Homo sapiens: one gene and its partner. The gene in region 2 interacts genetically with the main gene of each other region. Each region holds a gene or a part of one and is shown on either strand. Other genes may lie near its edges.

The links. A genetic interaction does not mean that the proteins touch.
Region 1: changes in TRAPPC11 (region 2) and FUT8 together harm fitness less than expected from each alone (positive genetic interaction), as found in Homo sapiens cells (one large-scale study listed by BioGRID).

What each region holds. Positions count from the first base shown.
Region 1 is NC_000014.9:65,720,230-65,723,729, reverse strand, and holds part of FUT8 (alpha-(1,6)-fucosyltransferase), read right to left. Parts: intron 1,956-3,500; coding exon 1,709-1,955; intron 1-1,708. UniProt on the Homo sapiens protein: Catalyzes the addition of fucose in alpha 1-6 linkage to the first GlcNAc residue, next to the peptide chains in N-glycans.
Region 2 is NC_000004.12:183,686,793-183,690,292, reverse strand, and holds part of TRAPPC11 (trafficking protein particle complex subunit 11), read right to left. Parts: intron 1-3,500. UniProt on the Homo sapiens protein: Involved in endoplasmic reticulum to Golgi apparatus trafficking at a very early stage.

The DNA of each region.
Region 1 (3,500 bases), on a different chromosome or scaffold from region 2:
TTGTAAAGTTCTGATACCAAGGGTTTTCCTCTTTATTTTACCCTGGAGAGTCACCATAACTGCCAGCTTGTAGAACTTAAAAGTTGTCCCAGGAAAACATAGACCTGGATAAACTTTTACAGCACCGTTAAGACCAGCAAACCTTTTAACGGTTTTTACTATTTTAGGTAAATGAAACCGATTCCAGCCCTTCTGTTGTGGGCATAATGCATTTCCTTTCTCTGTTTTTCACCATATCAAATGACAGCAGATATTAATTTCACCTGTCATATTTAAGAAAAGCCCCAAAATTGTAAAATTGGGGACACAGATTCACACTTCCCTGTACTGAATAAGGCACTGACTTCCACAGTTTTCTCCTCTCTCCTCCCATCTTAGTGTTTCCAAAGTAATTTTTTTTTTTTTAAGACAAGGTCTTGCTCTGTTGCACACATTGGAGTGCAGTGGCGTGATTATGGTTCACTCCAATCTCTGCCTCCCAGGCTCAAGTGATCCTCTCACCTCAGCCTCCCGAACAGCTGGTACTACAGGCATGTGTCACCAAGCCTGGCTAATTTTTGCTTTTTTTTTTTTTTTTAATTGATGGGGTTTCAACCATGTTGCCTATGTTGAGTTTTCTCAAACTTCTGGGCTCAAGTGATCCACTTGCCTCAGCCTCCCAGTGTTGTGATTACAGGCATGAGCCACTATGCCTGGCCCCAAAGCAATATTAATGGAAATAAAAATAACAGTTTATTTTCATAAATTAAAACACCCTCCTTAAATCTTGCCTTCCCCTCCCCCCAAATTACTAAATCACTATTTATATGTAGAAAAAGGTAGACTTATACGCCTTTAGGTCACAGTATATGGGCCAAACTTAAGGCCAGTTTTTTATTATGAATCTGGAGTGAAGGTTTGATTTCACCAGAGTTACTCTGCCATCTTCACGGCTATTCTTTGCTTTGCATTCCAGACTATAACCCAGATGTGGATACAATCATATGAACATCTATTCTATCATCTTTCCTTCCCACATCCTTCATAATCACTCTTTTTCTGGGGAAATTGGAATTGTTCAGTGGGCTCTATAGAGATGAAGTGGGCAGAACGAATGATTCCATTGAATTTCAATCAAAAGTTACATGAGAAGAAATACGATTTGATATTCTGACTTCACATGTACCTTCTTTACGTCTAACACTTAGAATGGGGTCAATAACTCCTCTACATATGAAGACTAAGACACAAGGAAAGATGTGGGGTGGGAAATATGAAAATAAAAATAAAAAGAAGCTGGACATGGTGATACATGCCTTTAGACCCAGCTATTATACTTGGGAGGCTGAGGTAGGAGGATCACTTGAGCCCAGGGTGGTTGAGGCTGCAGTGAGCCACTACACTTCAGCCTGGGTGACAGAGTGAGACCCTATCTCAAAAATAACAACAACAAAAGCCAAAAGAGAGCTGTGATAAGAGGAGAAAGAAGCAAAGGAAGAGGAGAACTGGAGACAGTAATAGAGCACTACTAAGCAACTTTCTTAGCTGTTCTAAGTAAACAAACAAAAAAAAATAGTCTCCATGTGACCTTAGGATAGCTCTAGAACCTCTGTCCTTTGGTGGGACTATAAAAATTGAACTACATATTGTAAAATTCACAATATATTGTAAAGATACATAACCCTAACTACTACATATCACAGTTTGAGGGAAAAAATCAGATTCTTACCCAATAACTGGATGTTTGAAGCCAAGCTTCTTGGTGGCTTCTTCTATTTCTTTTTCTAGCCAAGGCTGTGGGCGGATCAAGTATTTGACAAACTGAGACACCCACCACACTGCAGGGTCACCATGCACTCGTACAAGTCGATCTGCGAGGTCTTCTGGTACAGCCAAGGGTAAATATGGAGGACGGGGATGAAGACTGTCTACAATGGGAAGCTCGACCACTTGAACATTTTTGTCCTTCACTTCACCTGACAATATTGAAACATATAATCATTACCACATGGTATTCCTTATACATCCACCATTCAACAAGAACTTATTCTGAGTGCTTTCATCCTCACAGCAACTCTAAAGAAGTATAATCTTCACTTTACAAAGGAAGTTAAATAACTTGCTCGAAATACCAGAGCAAAAGTGACGGAGGTGAATTTCACATGCAGGTTAGTCTATCTCTCAAGTCTCTGGTCTTTTCTAAAAGTTTCTATCATAACATGCTATCATACCAACACCTCATGGTATGCAGAACTCAAAGTATCTAATCAAAGAATGACAGTAGACACAGCCAGCTAGCAAAGTTCTATTTTTTGTTGTTGTTTTGGAATTAGAAAATAAAGTGTTCTCGAAACTTCTAGCTTTTCATTACAGCAAAATTGCTCTTGCATTACTTTCATGACAGAACACAATGACTCTGGAAACACCTGAAGATTATAATTATAAGCCAATCATCTACATCTTTTAAAGAAAAAAATTAGATAATTCTAAAATCTTTTTTTTTTTTAATCTATTGGAGGGAGATGAAGCAAGATGGCTGAATAGAAGCCTCAACCAATCGCTGCCCCCACCACAGGAACACCAAATTTAACAACTATCTACACAAAAAAGCACCTTCACAAGAACCAAAAATCAGGTAAGTGATCACAGTACCTGATTTTAACTTCATATTGCTGAAAGAGACACTGAAGAGAGTAGGAAAGACAGTTTTCGATTGTCTACTACCCCTTCCACCCCCATGCAGTGGCCGTGTGGTGCAAAGAATCTGTGTGCTTGGGGGAGGGGGAGCACAGTGATTGTGGGACTTTGCACTGGAACTCAGTGTTACCATGTCACAGCAGAAAGCAACACCAGGCCAACTGGCAAGCAACACCCGGGCCATTAGCAAAGAACTCAGCCAATGCCCATGGAGGGAGAACTTAGATGTGCCCTAGCCAGAGGGGAAATGTCCATCCCAGCGGTTGGAGCCTGAGTTTCAACAAGCCGCACCACTATAGGCTGAAGTGTCCTGGGGCCCTAAATGAACTTGAAAGGCAGTCTAGGCCACAAGAACTGTAATTTCTAGGCAAGTTTTAGTGCTGTGCTGGGTTCGAGAGTCATTGGACCTAGGGGGCACGTAACCTAGTGAGCCACCAGCTGAGGTGGCTAAGGCAGTGCTTATGCCACCCTTTCCCTAATCTAAGGCAGTGCAGTTCACAGCTCCAAAAGAGACTCCTTCCTTCCACTTGAGCAGTAGAGAGGGAAGAGTAAAGAGGACTTTATCTTGCAACTTGGATAACAGCTCAGCCACAGTGGAACAGAGCACCAAGTGGGCTCTTGGGGTTCCTGATTCCAGACCTTGGCTCTTGTATGGCACTCCTGGACCTGCCTGGGCCAGAAGGGAGCCCAGTGCCCTGAAGGGCAAGTCCCAGGCCTGGCAACATTCACCACAAGCTGACTGAAGAGCCCTTGGGCCTTAAGTGAACATGAACCGTAGCCTGGCAATAATCCCTGTGGGCTTGTAGTGGTGGTGGCCATAGGGA
Region 2 (3,500 bases):
ATTATACTTTCCCGCCAATTTTCATTTCTATTCCATGCTTATAAAAACTACTCTACTTTTTTTTTTCTTATGGTTTATATTGTGAATTTCTTTTCTTTTAAGACGGAGTCTCACTCCATCGCCCACTAGAAATGCAATTTCAGCTCACTACAACCTCCGCCTCTCAGGTTCAAGCAATTCTCATGCCTCAGCCTCCCAAGTAGCTGAGACTACAGGCACCCGCCACCACGCTCAGCTAATTTTTGGGTTTTTAGTAGAGATGGGGTTTCACCATGTTGGCCAGGCTGGTCTTGAACTCCTGACCTCCAGTGATCCGCCCACCTTGGCCTCCCAAAGTGCTGGGATTACAGGCGTGAGCCACTGCGCCCCGCCTGTATCTTAAATTTCAAATAAGATATATTCAGAATATAATCTAAATTTTAAAACTAATTGCTTTATATTCCATTTTAGCGTTATTAGTTTTTAATTATAGTAGCTTATATTTTTTGTTGAAAAAAAAAAGGAAAGAAAAGAAATGAAATAGTAGGCTATTAAGGGAAAAGTAAAATAAGAGTCCCCATACTTCACTTGAGCCCAGGAGTTTGAGGCTGAGATGAGTTATGATCACATCACTGCACTCCAGCCTGGGCAACAAAGTATCTCTTTAAAAAAAAAAAAAAAAGAGTCCTTGTGTTGACCCTCTAATTTCATAATGAACAAAACAAACAAACAAAAAAAACCCCTGCCCTTCTGCCCTTGTGGAGCTTAGATTCCAGTAAGGAAAAACAGGTAATTTACCAAATAATCACACAGACAACGGTGAAACCACAGTGTGATTAGTACTACCAAGGCTATGAGAGCCTGGCTAAGTGATTCAGTCATGTAAGTCAGGGGAGGCTTCCCTGAAGAAGTGATGCTTTTAAGTGAGAAAAGGCAAGAAGGAATGAAGTAGTCGGAGAGGAGGGCAAACCAATTCAAGCAGAGGAAAGGGCATGTACAAAACCTCCTGTCCTTCATTCATCCTATCCCCACTTTTCAGCCGCTATATGCACTTGGCAATCCAGATTTATCTATTTTTAAATGCCTCTTATATCCCTGAATCTCCATTCCCAACACCAGCAACTCAATTCCGATACTTGTACTTTTGTACATGGATTAATATAAAGAGCCTCTAATTGGCTTCCATGATATTATTTCTATTTTGCTACTAGAATAAAGTTTCTTAAAACTTTAAGAATAAATTGCATGCTCTTGCTTTAAAATTCTCAAACTGGGCCAGGCATGATGGCTCACACCTGTAATCCCAGCACTTTGGGAGGCTGAGGTGGGTGGGCTCCTTGAGCCCAGCAGTTCAAGACCAGCCTGAGCAACACTCCATCTCTATAAAAAAATACAAAAATTAGCTGGGCATGGTGGCATGTGCCTGTAGTCCCAGCTACTCAGAGGAGGCTGAGGTGGGAGGATCACTTGAGCCTGGGAGACTAAGGCTGCAGTAACTCAAGATGGTGCCACTGCACTCCAGCCTGGGAGATAGAGTGCAGCCTTGTCTCAAAACACACACAAACACACACACACACACGCACACACACTAAAATAAAATTCTCAAACGGATTAGAGGAAATCCCTGGGCAAGGGTCTGAAGTTGAATAGAACATACTGATCTTCAGGTGACCCAGCTTCATCTAATCATTTCTATTACAGAGATATTTCTCTTTTCTTATGAATCAAATCCTAATAAAACAGATAACGTTTCTTTATCACCATCCAATAAATAGAACACAGACAAAAGAACAAATAAATCTTCAAAGACATCTGTTTACTAGCCTATCCCCGCTTAACTCTTCCAGGTTCCTTTAAGCCACCTGGCCTTATTTCCCACCACCCAGCATTATAAACCCTCTGTTCTAGTGAGGTGTGACTTTCCCAGAAACACAGATTGTGCGCTTCTGTTTCCATGCAGTGTTTTCTCATTGCCAAACATGTTCTCCCCCTCCATCTTTTCGACCTATCGTAATTTCATCTTCATTCTTGGAACTCCCTCCCTTTTTTCTGGCATGCCTACTACAGCTGTCCCTCTTTCTAGCCTACACTACGTAATTTAGTCTTCATTACCTATTTGGGCAATCTTTGATTCTGTCCTGGCCCTTGTCCCCAAAATGCCTAAATTTTAATGAGGTCGACATATGCTATACTCAGATTCAGCATGTTAAGAATATCGTAACTCTCAATAAATGCTTGTTGGTGAAAGACTCACTATACTTTCTGGGTAATCAAAAGATGATTATCTACTAAGTGAGTTTATAATAGAGTTGTAATGAAGTACTTGACTATATACTATATAATGCTTCAAATATATTCAAATGCAGGAAATATGATCCCAATTCTGCAAGAAAAAAAGTTGCTTATATATTCATGTGCAGAAAATGTCTAGGTTATTCAAGAAGTTAACGTAGAGGGTGTGTGGGAGAATGGAGAAGAAAGAAGACACACATTTACTTTTCACATTATATCCATCTATTCCATTTCAATTTTTTAAATGTCAAACATAAATTAGTTCCATAATCATAAACTAATAACATTAACTAATAATGTTGAAGTAAAATATAAACCAAATGTTTTTTTAATTCTATTCATTCTGAATATACCTTATTTGGAATTCAAGTATACATTATAAAAAAAATTTAAGGCCAGATGTGATGCCTCACACCTGTAATCCTAGCACTTTGGGAGGCTGAGGTTGGTGGATCACTGGAGCCCAGGAGTTCAAGACCAGCTTGGGCAACACAGCAAAACCCTGTCTCTACAAAAAATACAAAAGTTAGCCAGACGTGGTGGCAGGTGCCTGTAGTTCCAGCTACTTAGGGGGCTAAGGTGGGAGTCCAAAAGGTTGAGGCTACAGTGAGCTATGATTGCACCAATGCACTCTAGCCTGGGCAACAGAGCGAGACCCCGTCTCAAAAAAGACAGAAAAAAAAAGTATATATATACTATATGTGTACATATATATATATATACACACACACACAGAGAATTCTTAAGACTTTATAAACATGGAGTGAAAACAAAAATTGGAGTAAGCAAAGTGTAAACTTGAATTGCTAGAAGTTTAGAAACATATATATATATATATTTTTTGACACAGATCTTGCTCTGTCACCAGGCTGGAGTGCAGTGGCACGATCTCAGCTCACTGCAACCTCCATCTCCCGAGTTCAAGTGATTCTCCTGCCTCAGCCTCCCAAGTAGCTGGGACTACAGGCACGTGCCACCACACCCAGCAGATTTTTTTGTATTTTTAGTAGAGACGGGGTTTCACCATGTTGGCCAGGCTGGTCTCGATCTCTTGACCTTGTGATCTGCCTGCCTCGGCCTCCCAAAGTGCTGAGATTACAGGCGTGAGCCACTGTGCCCGGCCCTGGAGATATATTTTTGAATAGACCTTACCAAAGTTCATTTGTTACTATGAAACCATTAAGACATAAAATTCACTAAGCTCATTTTATCTAGTTTAACATAAGCTA